2 linked regions of the Homo sapiens genome follow. The protein of the gene in region 2 purifies or fractionates together with the protein of the main gene of each other region. This does not show direct contact. Each region holds a gene or a part of one and is shown on either strand. Other genes may lie near its edges.

What was found. The genes of interacting proteins can lie anywhere in the genome.
Region 1: the proteins of ISG20L2 (region 2) and KSR2 purify together in Homo sapiens (co-immunoprecipitation; one large-scale study listed by IntAct). This does not show direct contact.

What each region holds. Positions count from the first base shown.
Region 1 is NC_000012.12:117,528,491-117,531,990, forward strand, and holds part of KSR2 (kinase suppressor of Ras 2), read right to left. Parts: intron 3,218-3,500; coding exon 3,176-3,217; intron 2,524-3,175; coding exon 2,451-2,523; intron 568-2,450; coding exon of another isoform or gene 507-567; exon of another isoform or gene 56-506; intron 1-55. UniProt on the Homo sapiens protein: Location-regulated scaffold connecting MEK to RAF. Has very low protein kinase activity and can phosphorylate MAP2K1 at several Ser and Thr residues with very low efficiency (in vitro).
Region 2 is NC_000001.11:156,725,967-156,730,251, forward strand, and holds the start of ISG20L2 (interferon-stimulated 20 kDa exonuclease-like 2), read right to left. Parts: upstream 2,801-4,285; 5' UTR 2,449-2,800; exon of another isoform or gene 1,804-2,448; 5' UTR 1,687-1,803; coding exon 940-1,686; exon of another isoform or gene 1-939. Other genes in the region: METTL25B (methyltransferase-like protein 25B), read left to right, coding at 3,139-3,249. UniProt on the Homo sapiens protein: 3'-> 5'-exoribonuclease involved in ribosome biogenesis in the processing of the 12S pre-rRNA. Displays a strong specificity for a 3'-end containing a free hydroxyl group.

The DNA.
Region 1 (3,500 bases), on a different chromosome or scaffold from region 2:
ATTGCAGGAAGTGGCTGACTCCACAGAGTCAATCCACTTGCTGGAGGGGGTCCTGGTGAAAGAGTCTGAAAGACCACAAGAACTAAAAGAAGGAGAAAGAAAGGTCAACCACAAAGTGGCATTCGCCATGGTATTAACCAATTATTCATAGCACAGCCTGGGAAAGTGGAATGAACCTGCACGATGACAGCTGACATGCTGAGAACTTGATGCCCTGGGGGAGACTTGGCTGGGACAATGCAGCTGGAGTCCCTCCTCATGCCCAAAACCAAAACAGGCCACCCTCCTCTCTGCATCAAGGCGTGATTCCAGCAGCCAGGGCTATTCAAGTATTTCCTTCTGCAAAGAGTTGTCATCACTCCGCGCACATTTAAGCAGATCGCAAGCAGCTATTGACTCTGTTTTTCGCTGGTACCTCTGGACTGTCAGTTAATAACCTGGAGTTCATCTTGCACAAATTGTAGAATTGGTTTATGTGAAGCAGAGAAATGATCTCGAGCTAGATGTCAGCACCATATCCCCCGGCAAGTTGCTGCTCCTTTGATTTCAGAGATGTACCATGTAAGTCTTTAACAAAGTCCATAAGACCAGTCAGAAAAGATGAAGCAGTTAGGGGACCCAGAAGAAAAACTAAGTAGGCACAAAGGTGAGTTAGGAAACTGGTCAAATCCTAGCAAGCCCCAGGCTTCCATCGCAACCAAAGAAGTTAAGGAGGTGACTTTGTGACATCACTTTTTTCTTCTTTAGACAGAGTCTCCCTCTGTTGCCCAGGCTGGGGTGCAGTGGCACAATCCCACCTCACTGAACCTCCACCTCCTGGGTTCAAGCAATTCTCCTGCCTCAGCCTCCCAAGTAGCTGCGATTACAGTTGTGTGCCACCACGCCTGACTAATGTTTGTATTTTTAATATAGACGGGGTTTCACCAGGTTGGCTAGGCTGGTCTCCAACTCCTGACCTCAGGTGATCCTCCTACCTTGCCCTCCCAAAGTGCTGGGATTACAGGCATGAGCCACTGCGCCTGGCCAAGGTGACTTCACTTCTGCTGCACAAGCAATAAACCACCTGAAAAGAGGGTCTGTTTCCTAAGGATGCTATGCACAAAGATGTTCATTGCAGCATTATTTACAACAATGAAATATGGGAAGCAATGTAAAATCCAGCAATAGGAAAATGGTTAAGAAAATTATTCTACATCAATATGTCATTTTACACCCATTAAAAACAATATCAGACAGGTGCAGTGGCTCATGCCTGTAATCCCAGCACTTTGGGAGGCTGAGGTGGAATGATCACTTGCACCTAGGAGTTTGAGACCCACCTAGGCAACATGGTGAATCCCTGTCTCTACAAAAATAAAAAATTAAAAAAAAAATACAAAAATTAGTTGGGTGTGGTGGCACACACCTGTAATCCCAGCTACTCGGGAGGCTGAGCTGGGAGGATCATTTGAGCCCAGGAGGCTGAGGCTGCAGTGAACCGTGATTGCACCACTGCATTGCAGCCTGGGTGACAGAGTGAGACTCTGTCTCAAAACAAACAAACAAAAAACAAAAACCAACAATGTCTATGGAGAGGCTAAAATAATATTCATAAAATGTGATGTTTGGCATAAAGATAACAAAGCAGGATGGTAGCTGCTTGCATATATTGTGGGTCATAACTATGTAAAATATAAATGGAAAGAACACACATAGAAGTTTTAACAGTGGTGAGATCATGAGTGATTATTTTGCCTTTCCCTTTTTAAAGAATAGCCCACATTTTCCAAAATTAGCTTATATTATTTTTATAATAATATAAACCAGAGGTTAGCAAATTTCTTTCTGCAAAGGGTCATAGAGTAAATATTTTTGGCTTTGCAAGCCATACAGATTATGTTACAACTACTCGATTCTGCTGCTGCATGGAGAAAGCAACCATGCACAATACATTGTAAACAAATAGGCATGGCTGTGTTCCAATAAAACTTTAAATAAAAACAAGCAGGAGGTTGGATCTGTCCCATGGGCTATAGTTTGCTGATTCCATAAACCTCAATGAGACTTTTGAAAGTTATTCCATGTTCAGTGACATGGAATAATTGCCCTTTCATTAAGTACTAGCTATCACCCGGGGAAAGTTTTCTTCCTAATCACAGGGAGGTTATGGGTCCTTAGGAAACGGTCCAGCCCCTGGAAATTGCATTTGACAGGCAGGGTCAGAGACACAAGGCATAGCTGCTCGTGAGGAACAGCATTGCCTCTCTCTCCATCTCTCTGTCTGAGCTGTCACGCCCTTTCTCTTTGCCTAAGTTATTCCCTATGTCTCTCTGACCCCCTTGTACATCTCCCTCTGCCCCCAACTCCATCAGTTCCAGGAAGAGAAGGAAAGAAGATAGGGAACCTGAGTGGATTGTAGGGCCAGGGCTGGGAAGCTTGGGAAAGGGGGAAGATGTCTCTGTCTCACTTACATTGGATTCGAGGTCACCGGATGCAGGATGACCTGGGGCGCCCGGGTCGGCGTCTCCGGCACCGGCACCACATCTGAAAACCAGAGATTGAACACTCAGAAAAAAAATGTGAAGTCCACAACCCCCGCAAAGGCCTGATTCCTGGGCGACATGGCAGCCAATTTTTCACCAGATCTTGGATCTCTGCCCTTGGCCAATCTCCTTTCTCCTTTCCTGGACCACCTGGACTCTACCTGCTCAGCTGGACCAGGGTTCTGGATGACATCCTCAACAAAATTCCTCATTGTTGAATAGGGGGCTGCCAGAACCCTCAAATATCTAGCCTGAAGCATTCATTGGTCATCTCTGAATCTTTCTTTCTCCTGGGTTCCCTTTGGGATGATAAAGCCCCTTGGTTTCACATCCTCTCAGTACCCAGCTCAGGACCCTATGACCATCTCTTTCCTGCCACATGGCTCTAGACCCCTCCTCACCCTCGCCCAGTGTTCTACAGCACTCCACCCTCTCAGGCCTTTCCACGGTGCCTTGGGACCTCCTTGGGTCCCACTGTGCCCACTCTTTCTTCTCCACTTCCATGTTCAGCCATTATCCTGGAGTGTGGTGACTCCACTACCCTCTTTGATCTTAGGCACCCCCACAACATCTGCCTCCATTCATCCCAGAAACTCCTGCAATGCAGCGGGGCTTGTTCAGAAGGGGCTGCTTCCAGCTCACATGAAACTCACCTGGGAAGATGAACTGCTGCTTGTATTTGTAGTAGTGGGATGCTTGCAAAAGAAAGAAAACATCAAAGTGAGTGTCCCCAGGGAGACATCGCTTCAGGGACCAGATTGAGCTCTTACAGCCACCACATGGTCATTCTCTGCCCACCTTCAAGAGTTTCCATACTTCTGCAGACATCCCTGCAGACAAGGGACTGCAAACATGTGTAAAGAAACCAGAACTCTAAACATCCATGCCGACCCTCCCATCTGACATCTCACACTCCCTAAAATCAGACTGCTCCAACTCAAACAGACATTCTGACTACAATACCATTTTTGTGAAATG
Region 2 (4,285 bases):
CCCTCTGGCGGCCTCCTGAGACCAGCAGGTCTCTTGCTCTCCCTTCACTTCCTCTTTCACCCCTCCCAGCTCACTCTCCTTTCCGTTCATGCCTTGCGCTCCATGGCCAGCACAGGGCTAGGAGTGAGATGACAACCCGAAGTGCCGGCCCTGTGCCGTTTATGCCGTTCACTGGTTACCTGTTCCAGTTGGACAATATATACCCCAGCTCCTCCTGTCAACTTTCTGCCCTCTCTTACCACCACCACTTTCCGCACTTGCCCCAGGCTACTTTTTGCTTGGGACGAGCTCTCCACCTTTCCTCTCTCAAGCTTAGGCTCCAACTCGCAAGGTTTTTCCAAATCAAGCCCTTTCTCCTGACACTGGTGTCTGCAGCTCTGTCTAGTTTCATCACTTGCTGTTATTTTTCTATGCAGATTCCCAGTTCCCCAGACCCAATTTAGAACCTAAAATAGTTTTTTTGTTTGTTTTTTTGAGACAGGATCTCACTCTGTCGCTCAGGCTGGAGTGCAGTGGCAGTGGTGTGATCTCAGCTCACTGCAGCCTCGACCTCCTGAGTAGCTGGGACTACAGGCATGTACCACACTTGGCTAACTTTTTTGTAGATGAGTTCCGCTATGTTGCCCAGACAGGGCTTGAGTTCCTGGGCTTGAGCGATTCTCCCGCCTCAGCCTCCCAAAGTGCTGGGATTATAGGCAAGTGCCACTGCGCCCGGCTAAAATAGATCTTGACCAATGAAGTTTGTGACACCAGCTAATTGTACCTTCCTGACTTTCACTGCTTCTTCCACCGACAGGGGGCCTTCTTCAACAACTGATAGATTCTCCTCCCTCCCTCCACAAACGTTGGTGTCTTCCCATAGTGATATCCTTTGCTGAAAAATGATTTAGACCTCTCTCCATCCACCTCCCTGCCACCATCAAGCCCCATGCTTCTTACCTGGCCTCGAGCAATCTTGAAGGGTGTGGCATTCACCATGTGCTGCTTCCGGATACCACTCCACCTGGTTCGGTAGTCCACAATGTGGCAGGGGGGAAGAATGTACTCGTCATAAAGCACATCTCCGTTGTAGTTGACAATGCTACATCGAGCCAAGGAACTAACATGCCCCTTTGGTCCTGTGCCCACCATCTCACAGTCAATTGCCACCATCTTCCGTGGCAACTTCTGGGATGCTCCGGAGCATTTATTCTCTGAATGAGCTTGGGTGGAGTTCTGTGGGGCATTCTTCTGAGGATGGTTCTTTTTAGAGGATTTCTTCTGGGAGCTCTTCTTCTGAGAGCGGGTTGGGTGGCTATTGATCTTTGGAAGGGCACTCTGGAACTCCCCCAGCAAATCTACTTTAGCAGCAACAGAATCAGCCTTTTTTGAAGGGGCAGGGGTCAACCAAGACACTGCAGCTTTCTTGTCCAGGGGCTGTCCTGACCCATTGCTGGAAGCAGCTGTCTTCTTTTTTGGGAAGGAAGGGGTCTTCCAAGTGCCATCGACCGTAGGAGTTTCCCCTTTCTTTGAAGGTTCAGAGTGCAACTTAGGCGCCTTGCTAGGGGGTTGGTTCTTTTTACTCAGAAAGCCTCTCCGTTCTAAGAGCCTCCGCTTCTTGACAAAATTTCGGTGCTTGGCATTTCCTTCTAATGCCTTTTTGGGAGGAGGTTCCCCAAAATCCAGATTGAGCAGTAAAGTAGACATAGGGACAATGGAAGGCGGAAGAGTAGTTGGGAAGAGTGGCTTATGGATGAAAAGAGGATGTGGGACTCATTCTCTGCTGAATCCTACTGTCCAACATGTGGAGGTCTGTAGTACACCCTGGGGAAGAAAGTGATCCTGGTAATTGAGCTCCTAGGCCTGGGAGAAAAATGAGGTAAGCTCGATCTCCGTAGGACTTATGGAAGGAAAGACATCAGAGCAATCTCTCAGACAGAGGGGAAATGAAAACATAACATGAAATGATGGAGGGAGCATTGGTGTTAGCCAGCAAGCCTGGATTCTAGTGAAGCCCAATTCACCAGCCATTTGGTCTTAGTAAGGTCATTACCGCGCTCTAGGTTTGAGTCTCATTTGTAAAATGAAGGGAGTGGAGGGGCTTATAGAGCTCGAACCCTCTGAGTCTAAGAGGCTAGAACACGTGCGATCTATACTCCGCCTAGGAAAGGAACATCTAGGTATGCTCAAAAACAGTGAGAAGTATGGCGTAGATAACCTCTGGGCTACCCAGGCATCCGCAGCGTGGACCACCAATAGAGACACAAATCCAGGCATCCCTTTCCCTTGGCTCCAGGCCGGAATTGGGGGCAATCTCCGCATGCATCTCACCCAAGTCCTTCTCCCACGCAAGGACCTTGACACCATCTACCAGCGCGGGGGTGGGATCGAGGCTTGAGGCAGCCCACCTGGATAAGCATACTTCGGATCCCCGCGGTACAGATCGATCTCTCACGCTCACAAACCTACCTCCCAGACGGGTCCAGCTAAGACCGGAAGCGTCCGGAGCCGGATGCGGAAATCGGTGCGCGCCGACGAAGCCCGGGAAGGCAGGCGCGCGGGTTAGAACGCGCCAGAGGTCGGCGCGCGCACACCCGCACCGCCCCGACCCCAGGTAGTGAGGCCAGTGATTCCGAGTGTGTGAGGAGCGGCAGTGGCGGCGGAGGAGGGGGCGGCGTGGGTGGGGGCGGGGGCGGGATGCGCTCCCCGGCCCCTCTAGCCCCGTGGTGGTACAACGCGAAGGTGTGGGAAGGCCGCGATAAACCGGAACTGCAGCCCGCCGGACACCTCCGGCTTCACTTCCGTAAGAGGAGAGGAGTGTACGGCAAGGGGCGGGAACTGGAACTTGGCCCGCCTCGTTGTGAGCTGAGCTCAGCGGCACGCTTTTGTGGCGTCACTGCACTGTTACCCCGCCCTACGTGTCTCTGACGCTGACACCTTCTCACTGTGAAACGTCGCGACCTGTGACGTCTGGGGGGCGCCTCAAATCTTCCACTCCAGCATCGGATCCCGGAAAGGCAGCGTCGGAGACTGGACCCAAAACTCTTCCTGTTCTGCCTGCAGAGTTGAGCCCCGTCCGGGTCCTGGACCCGCGTAGTACTGACCCTGGATCCCTGTTCACTGCGTTCTCGCTCCCCGCGCTCCCTGCTGGACCCCGGGATGCCGGGCATCTCCGCCCGAGGCCTCTCTCATGAGGGGAGGAAGCAGCTAGCTGTTAACCTCACCCGTGTCCTGGCACTCTACCGTTCCATCTTGGATGCCTACATCATCGTGAGGCCACAGGGGCGTGGGTGGGATGTCTCTGGTCGTGTGGTTGGCTAGGTGCCCACGTCAGGGAGAGAATCTGGAGAATTAGCCTCTGATCTCTTTCCTTCTATGAGTTTCAGTCTTTTTCTGTACAAGAAGGGGTTAAAACTGGAGTGATCCCTCCTTTTTTTTCAGCTGACATAAATAATATTTCTTTTTTTTTCTTTTTCTTTTTTTTTTTCTTTTTTTTTTTGAGACGGAGTCTCGCTCTGTCCCCCAGGCTGGAGTGCAGTGGCACGATCTCGGCTCACTGCATAAATAATATTTCTAGTACCTACCTAGATTGTTTTTGTAATCTTCCCAGATCCAAGGTAATAAAATGCGTGGACATTGGAACCATGCTGCAACTATGTTGAACTCTTCTTGGAGCATGTCAGGTGTTCCAAGAACACACGTTATTCATCCAAGCTTTGAATAAATTCGTGGTTTTGTGGTATAGTAGACAGTCCTGGCTCTGGAATCAAAAAGGCTTAGTCTAGAATCCTGCCTCCCCTATGATGTTAACCTTAGGCCTCCCTAACCCCCAACTTGTCCTAGTCCGGGTTTCCTCAGCTATACAATGGATCCCAGTCTGAAGGATTATTGTGAAGAATAAATGAGAGAATGTGTAAATGGCACCACCATCCACTGAATTGTTTAGACCACAAACCCAGAGGCCATCATTGATTCAGTGCTGTCCTTCATTGATCCACAATCCAGTTCTTCAACAAGTCCTCTTGGCTCTGCCTTCGGAATAGATCCCAAATTCATCCATTTGTCCCCACCTCCGTTGCTGCCACCCTAGGCCAAGCCACCATCACCTCTCTTCTGAACTACTTCCTAACCGATCTTGCTGTGTGCTTACCTCTGCCCTGCCATTACCAATTCTTCACTGAGCAGCTAGATTGATAGCATTCAAATGTAAATCTGATCACGACAATCCCTTGCTTCCTAGATACTTTTATGAAATCCTAACTCCTTACTATTACCTATAAAACCCATATTCTGGCTCCTACTGTCT